Linked DNA regions of Homo sapiens: region 1 is linked to region 2. Evidence: fine-mapped expression QTL. A gene starts in region 2. The other region holds a variant in brackets. All regions are shown on one strand. Distances are from middle to middle. Region 1 overlaps GPAM (glycerol-3-phosphate acyltransferase, mitochondrial). Region 2 holds the start of GPAM (glycerol-3-phosphate acyltransferase, mitochondrial).

The links. PIP is the estimated chance that this variant, and not a neighbour inherited with it, causes the effect. A credible set is the group of variants that fine-mapping cannot tell apart.
Region 1: its variant is the best candidate, but not a certain one, in a credible set for the expression of GPAM in whole blood (TOPMed, PIP 0.84).

What each region holds. Positions count from the first base shown.
Region 1 is chr10:112,160,247-112,164,246 of GRCh38, reverse strand. GPAM (glycerol-3-phosphate acyltransferase, mitochondrial) reads left to right here. Exons shown (of 22, transcript NM_001244949.2): 14 at 431-546; 15 at 2,510-2,580; 16 at 3,379-3,643. Among named protein-coding and RNA genes, the nearest start is that of GPAM, 22 kb to the left of the region's middle. The variant G/A (reference allele first, on the strand shown) is at 2,394.
Region 2 is chr10:112,181,785-112,186,307 of GRCh38, reverse strand. GPAM (glycerol-3-phosphate acyltransferase, mitochondrial) reads left to right here and starts at 2,543. Exons shown (of 22, transcript NM_001244949.2): 1 at 2,543-2,615; 2 at 3,417-3,514; 3 at 4,495-4,523. RefSeq lists a silencer at 2,396-2,625.

The DNA of each region.
Region 1 (4,000 bases), 22 kb after region 2:
GGTTATGCATATTGTATGTAAGTGAACCATATGAAAGAATTTTGCTGTTTGAATTTTTCGGAATTCAAATTGAATTCAAATTGAATTTTAACTTAGAGAAATTGAATATGAAGCCTTTCCTTTAATATGTGGAAGTGTTGAATTTTCAGAAATGTTTTAAAATAAGGCATCTTGAATTATGTATTCTTTCTGCCAGTGGTTTTGGAAGTGGTGTATCAACAGACTATTTAGTCATAACTAAATAACATGTTTTGGCCAGGCCATAATGTAGTATATTATGGAGGAAAATAAGCCATAGAAATAATCTGTTTGTGGTTTAAATTTAAAATATATAGTAATTTAAAGTATCTAATTCATTTAAAGATCAGTTCCACATGGTTTGCCTTGTAAAAGAGTGCGGTTGTGTGTTGATTTTTGAAACACTTTTTAGACCCAGTGATGCTGCTGATGAAGGTAGAGACACGTCCATTAATGAGTCCAGAAATGCAACAGATGAATCCCTACGAAGGAGGTTGATTGCAAATCTGGCTGAGCATATTCTATTCAGTAAGTAGAATACCAGACTCTTTAATTCTACAATTTAGATTCATCATGGTATGGTGCAAACTATACAGATTTTGGAATCTGCTGAGGTTAGTTTCCACTTCTATTAATTCACAGGTGGTGATAGGTAAGTTATTAGAAAGAAGGTGATACCGTGAGGATTTGAGATAATTGGAGTTAAACATCTTATACAGTGTCTGGTAATTAGTAGGTGTTCATGTGGTAGTTGTTGTACTTTTTAAAAATAGTTATTATTAAAATGATTTGTTGCCTCTGTTGCTCATTAATGTGTTTTATTTGAACTACTTGAACTAATTTGTGGTACAACGTCTAGATTTATAGTTGCATGTCCATTTCTCCTTTGACCCCATGAGTTTTTGTAATGCAGCAAATATGAGTGGCCTTGTATAAAGCTTTGCCTTAGCCGTGGAGAATACAAAATGAATAATTAATGGTTCTGAACTCAATGAGCTTATGTTCTTGTCAGTGGGATGGTTATACACAAATAATTAAAGTGAACCTAGAGAGGAGAGGAGTGTGAGTTCACTGCAGGACCAGTCTTCTTTAAGTTCCAAGCTGTACAATTGTGTACTGTTGTGGAGGCTGCTTTAAAATCCCAAGGCAGCACAGTGGTTCTTTGGTGCTCAGCCTAGTTGTGATTTCTTTCTTGCTGCTCTCTGGGCCAGGACCCTGATGATACTCTCCGCACCCCCTGCCAATGCTACTGGGGAGGTCTTCCTCCCTCACCTTGCTCCTCCCATTCTGGAGGCCCCTATTCCTGCTTGACTTTGGGTCAGAGGATTCTTTCTCAAGCACATTTGATTATGTCTCTATCCTGCTTAAAATCTGGATACAAAAAATAATACCTTATTGTTAAAAAGTTTGAAAATAAAGATGAAATAGACAGCAAAAACCCATTACCCAAATAACCAGTGGTGTTGCTGTGTAGTCTCTAAAAATATTTTTTACAGTTTTGTATTGTGCAGCTTTCCATTTATAACACAATATTCATATTTAAAAATTCTTTATAAATATTTTTAATAGCTATACATATAGTACTGAGTACTTTTTTTTAACACTGGAGACGACTTCAGTTACCAGTGGTGAATGAAGTATTCTTAAATTTATTGTTATCTTAGAAAACTCACAAATGTTATCGTGATTTAAGATTATTCCATGGGTGTTCTCAGATTTGATTTATATAATTATAATTTTATGCAAATTCAGTGTAGGGGTGTGCACTGTAGTCATTCTCAAATGTGTGTCTGTGCCCTTCCTTCTTACCTCTGGGTCAGGTTGAAAGAGGAAATACAAATATGCTGAGCACCCATTACTGTGGCTCCTGTGCCGGGCCAGTCATTTTATTCTCATGTGGTCTAATGAGCTAGGTAGGATTTTCATTTTATCAGCAAGGAAGGTGAGGCCAGGAATTTAAGTAATTTGCCCCAAGTCATGAAGTTAGTTAGTGAGTAAATTAGGATTTGAGCCCAGATTTTTCTGACTTCAAGTCAGCTGTTATCCTTCTACTACACCTTCGTTTTAATATGGTGAATACCAGCAAGAAGAGTGAAGTAGAGTTGTAGTTATAATAGACTGTAGGTGGGAGCAAGTAAAGGAATATGGAAATGGGAGATCCCGTAGAACTAAAACAGCCTTGTACTTTGGGTCTTGATATTTCAATAAAAGTGTCTCTTCGTCATTCAGTAACTAAATTCCACTGGCCTGGATTGAAGTTGGACCTGTCTTACTTAGCCTGTTGTATGATGAATAGTGATCTCTAATGAGGTTCCATTATACCAGAACACTGTAGTATTATAACTTCCTTTTGGTAAATCACACTTATGGGAAAT[G/A]TGATAGAAGACTTTCACAGTTTTAAATACTCCTGTTTAAAATTTAGGTATTTCAAAAAAGTTCAGCTATGTTTGTAAAAAGTGCAACTAAAAAAAGCTTTGTGTTTGCCTTCCAGCTGCTAGCAAGTCCTGTGCCATTATGTCCACACACATTGTGGCTTGCCTGCTCCTCTACAGACACAGGCAGGTATGTCTGCAATGTCACCTGCAGTTAAGTAGGAAGCAGGAGAATGTTTTGTCAGCTGCTCAGATACATACTCAGGGGCAGATTTGGCCCACTCATGGCTAGTACTATGAGGTAAACAGTAAAATAAGCTGAGGACCCTGCCCAAAGGAGCTTATCAACTTGGTGGAGGAAGAATCTACATTTAAAAACAAAACAAAACAGACTGCTTAATATATATAGTACTAAGCTATTGCTTGATTAATACTGTTAATGTAAATAAGGTCTAACTCATTAACATGTGGTATATATTCTGAAAGCAAATGCTTTCCAAATGAATTGACTGGCATTTTAGAACCCACCCTTTATCCTCCCAAAATACATTTGTCTGAGCTTTATGATGGAAGAGACCACACCAGTCTTGTTCAGTCATATTCTCAACACCAAACAGTGCCAATATATATAGGCACCAAATAAATATTTGCCAGATAAATATTTAAAATGAAGGAAATTTTGCTAAAAAATAAGCACTCCTTACTTGCAGATGGCTTTTTTCCTCCCCCTTGTGATCTTATGTGTGCATATCATGTGTCATGGCTAGAGTGTTCACTAGCATGTGTAATACCTTGACATTCCTGGAGGACCAGCTTTTTAAGTAGTTTTCTGACTCGCTCTGCATTGGTGTTCTGGCCCTACTTCTCTATGTGCTAGCAGTGAGCTGCAGGAAAGCCAAGGCAAGAAGAAAGTCTTGGAATGTTGGCCTCTCAGCTTTTTGGAAAGTAGGTTTTCCACCATCATGATACCGTTTCCATCTTTCTTTAGGGAATTGATCTCTCCACATTGGTCGAAGACTTCTTTGTGATGAAAGAGGAAGTCCTGGCTCGTGATTTTGACCTGGGGTTCTCAGGAAATTCAGAAGATGTAGTAATGCATGCCATACAGCTGCTGGGAAATTGTGTCACAATCACCCACACTAGCAGGAACGATGAGTTTTTTATCACCCCCAGCACAACTGTCCCATCAGTCTTCGAACTCAACTTCTACAGCAATGGGGTACTTCATGTCTTTATCATGGAGGCCATCATAGGTATGTCAGACCTTGAAATATTTTCAGTAATTTTCATGGAAAATAAAAAGGCCTAAAACACATAGTGGTATCTGCTTTAATTTGGGTGATAGCCCCTTGCTTGAGGGAATGTGGCTATAATTTTAGTTTTCAAACGAAAATGTAATCTCCTGTTATATCACTGTTTACAATGAGTAGTTACTGAATTACCGTTTGTATAGCATTACCCTTATTTTTCAGGAGAGGTAGAGTGTCTTGCTATCCAGGAGCTGAAAATCTAACTGAGATGAGACATACACAGAGCAGCAAAGTGAGTGGAGGGCCTCATTTGTGATTAAGAGAAAAGAGAGGAAGGAGAGAAGAGGGGGCTTATGTCTT
Region 2 (4,523 bases):
TATATAAAATGTACATACCATATATTAATATAAAAAGAACTCTTGATTGATAGGTTCTTCATTCAGTACTTCAGATGCTGCTCCACCATCTTCTGGTTTGCATTTTTCTGATGTGAAATCTGCTGTCATTCTTATCTTTGTTCCTCTGTACAGTAATGTCTTTTTTTTTCTCTCTGATAGCTTTTAAGATTTTCTCTTTATCAGTGGCTTTAGGCATTTTGATTGTGATGTTTCTTGGTATGGTTTTCTTCATGTTTCTACTGAGTTTGTTGAGCTTTTTGGGTTTATAAGTTTATAGTTTTGGTCAAATTTGGAAAGTTTTCATCAATTATTCTTTCAAATGCTTTTTTCTGTCCTCCCTAATCTATTCTCACCTCATATTTCTCATTTTCTTCAGGGACTACAATTGCATGTATACTAGGCTCACTGATACTCTACTTTTACTTTCAGTATTTTTCTTCCCTTAGTGTTTCATTTTGGATAGTTTCTATCACAATGCTTTCAAGTTTTTTTTTGTTTGTTTGTTTTTGTTTTTGAGACAGAGTCTCGCTCTGTCACCCAAGCTGGAGTGCAGTGGCACAATCTTGGCTCACTGCAAGCTCTGCCTCCTGGGTTCACGCCATTCTCCTGCCTCAGCCTCCCGTCAGGTTTTTTACTGTTTCTTTTTTAGTAATGTCTAACCTATTAATCCTGTGTGTGTGTGTGTGTGTGTGTGTGTGTGTGTGTGTGTGTGTGTCTGTGTGTGTGTGTTAGGGTGTTAAAAATCTTAGATGTGGTTTTATTATCTCCTAGATGTTTGGTTTGTGTCTTTTTTTTTTTTAAAGATTTTTCACATCTCTACTTCCCATGCTCAGTTTATTTTTTCTACTTGTTGAAAACATTGAATACAGTCATAATTACTTTCTTAATGTCCTTGTTCTCTTATTTTATCATCTCTGTCATTTCTGGGATGATTTCAATTGGTTGATTTTTTTTTCTCATTTCCTGCTTCTTTTCGCATGCCTGATAATTCTGTTTGGATTCCAGATGTTGCAAATTTTACCTTGTTAGGTGTTGGTTATTTTTAATTTCCTGTAAATATTCTTGTGCTTTGCTCTGGGACACTTTGTTCTCAAAAACGGTTTAATCCTTTGGTGGCTGGCTTTTAAGATTTCTAAGATAGAATCAGAGTAGCTTTTACATTAGAGCTAATTTTGCCCCACTACTGAAGCAAAACCATTTGAGTTGTGAATTATGAGGTTTTCCAGTCGGGGTGCCAGGATCAGGCACTATTTCTGGTCCTGTATAATCACTGGGTATCTTTCTACTCTGCCTTGTGGGAGCAGAATTAATTTCCTACCCTGTGCAAACTTTAGTAATTGCTCTCTCTTTTCTTCATACATGATTATTTCCTGCCCTTAGGTAGCTTCCTCACACACATGCTCTAATCAGCGGAAGACTGGAGTGAGATCTGTTGTAGATCTCCACAGCTCCTTCTTTCTCTGTGTAGCTTTCTCCTTTCTGATATACAACTCACAGTTCCAGCTGCTTTGGCCTCCCTGCTCTCCCAGTTCTATCTCTTCAACTCAGGGAGTCTGCCTAGCTCTTTTTGGCTGCTCCCTCTAGTTAGTAAATCAAGGCAATCATAGGGCTCACCTCATTTGTTTTCCCTCCTCAAGGACCACTGTCCAGCACAACGTTTAAAAGCCATTGTCTTATAAATGCCTGTTTGTTTTTGTTTTTAGTTGTTTTAGGCAGGAGAGTAAATTCAGTCCTGTTGCTCCATCTTAGCTGGCTAGACTGGATTGCTATAAATTTTAAACTATCTAAATAGTTGCATATATTTAGGGGGTACAAATCGATGTTATGACTTATGAATACAATGTGGAATAACTGAATCAAGCTAATTGACATATCCACCTCAAATACTTCTCAGTTTTCATGGTGAGAACTTTTGAAATGTACTCTTAGCGATTTTGAACTGTATAATACATTATTATTTACTATATTCACCATGCTGTGTAACATATAGTCCGAAGGGGGAAAAAAGCCCTTATTTCTCCTAACTGAGGCTTTTTATACTACAAGCCTTATTTGCTTCTTTTCATATCTCATTTTCCTCCTTAAAGGAAAAGGCACTCAGCCACTTTGGTAGAAATTACACAACATGGCCATTTGCAATCCCTGCCTCTCCCATTCGTAGTAAATCCTACATAGTCTTACAGATCTCATAAAAAGTCAGACCACACACATAACCTGATAGCCCACGCGCACATTCCCAACAGAGCCTGGAAGAGGGACAAGCTCCCGGATAAGCTGAATTTACACAAAGCAGAATGAGGTACCCACACACACTCACACACGCATGGCCTAGGCAGGGTAACCATCTGTCCAGGCGCTCACACACTATCTTTAGCCACACACAGGCACGCACACTCGAGTACACACATTACACCCTCGGATCCGCTCACGCTCCCTGAGGCTCGCAGGCCGGGCCCCGCCCCCGGCGCTGGCTAGCCGGCGGCCCCGCGTCAATGCCACGCGCCGGTTGCGTCATCAGGGTGCGCCACTGCAGCTGGCATTGGCCGGGACTGGAAGTGCGGGCTTCTGCAGCAGCCGAAGCTGGAGCTGCTAGGGTGCGAACTGCCAGGGCAGGTGTGGGCTGCGGGAGGCTACTCGGGCCGGGAGCGCCGGGACAAGTGCATGGAGGTGGTGCGACTCCTGCAAGTTGCTGGGGCAGTCGTGTCCCCTATTCCCTGACACCCGAGCTCCGGTCTTCTCCCTGAGAAATCGGTCGGGCTCGTGCAGGGGTGGGGATCAGGATTCATCTCTCCTGGGGAGACTGCGCTGGGGCATGGGTTCCCCTGGGTTGGAAGGAGTCCTTATGGACTCAGTCCCCTAAGTATCTGCACGCGCGGAGGCGCCGCCAGCCAGCCCGCCTGGGTCCCTAGGGAACATTGAGGCAGTAAGGGGTACTCTGAGAGCAGCCGGTATGCTGGAGATAATTAATGACAGCGTTACCATTGATTGGACTGAGCGCTCACTGTGTGTTACACACTGTGGTAGACCCTTTGTTTATATTATTCCGTCCTCTCAACAATCCAGGAGGTTAAGAGCTATCATTCTGCCCATTTTCCAGATGGGAAAACTAAGGCATAGAAGTTAACCAACTTATGGTAATAAAAAATCACACAGATGGTAAGCAGTGGAAGATTTAAACCTCACAGCTGGTCTTCCAGCCTCTGTCCTTTTCAGATCCTCTAGTCAGCTTCTCTCAGCGCATGCTGCTGGCTGGTGCCTCTGGGATATTGCTTCTTTATTACTCCTTGACCTAGAGCGAACTGTGCGGAGGGAGGAAGTGCAAAACGTGGACCTCCTGTTGGCACAAACGAGCCTCTTTGTCCTCTCCTCATCCTCTCTTCACTTCATTTTCTCAGGCAGCAGCGGCTCCCCTGTTGTATGGACATTCTGCACCCGAAACTGATAGCTGAGTCCTGAAGTTTTATGTTATGAAACAGAAGAACTTTCATCCCAGGTGCATTGGTTTATTCTCTCCCCTAGCCTGTTATGTTAGATTGTACTTATGTTAAATTTTTAAGGACATAGGTGGTTATGCCGAGAATAACAGTGACTGTAGCCAACCCATGTGGGGATTGTAAAGAAATTGGAATATGCCTTCCAAAGGAACACTGTTAATCTAGACATGACCTTTCAGGATTTTAAAGGAATAATTTTAGGCCAGGTGAGAAACAGCCAAAAGCAAAAATAATGTGAGGCTAGAGATTATGTTTGAAAGTTTTTATATTTTGGATTAATATCTATTCTAGGAGTTTACTCTTAGTGAATCTTTTTCCTTAGGGTAGAAAAAAGCTTATCGAAAAGGATGAAAACTTATACATCAGATATTTCAAAATAGTGTGCTTTTCTTTCAGAGCTTTGTAGCTTTGTATTACCTTTGTATTAAAAGTGAAAATGTTCTTTTAGGACATCACAAGAAAATTAAGATCTTAATTTAAGTACGGGAACTTAAGGGGTGCCCTAATTGCCTTAATTAAATAAACATGCCTTCCTTCTGCCAGGAACTATTCAATTAACAAAAATGAAATAAGAATAAGCTCTTATTTTCATTTGCAAATGACTATTCATAGCTATTTTGTTTGGATACAATTCATAGCTATTTTGTTTGGATACTATTTTGTTTGCATACTATGTTTTGTTTGGATACTATTCATAGCTATTTTGTGTGGATACAAAGGATACAATGTTGTATCCTTATATATTCAGGAAGTCTTAGAATACAAATGCTGATTTTTTTTTTTTCTAGTCAGGGAAGCCTAACTGTGTTCATATAAACACATCAAAGTCAGTTTTTACCTTGTGACTCAACATGGTAGAAGTCTGTCAGTTCATGTGATATCCCATTGTGGAGCAAAGTAATGTAGAAATCAGAATTTTGAGTTCTAGTATTTACTCTCTCGATTCCTTGTTAATTTAAATGGTACCTATTTTTTATAGCACATGATTTGGGAATTACACTTTGTGAC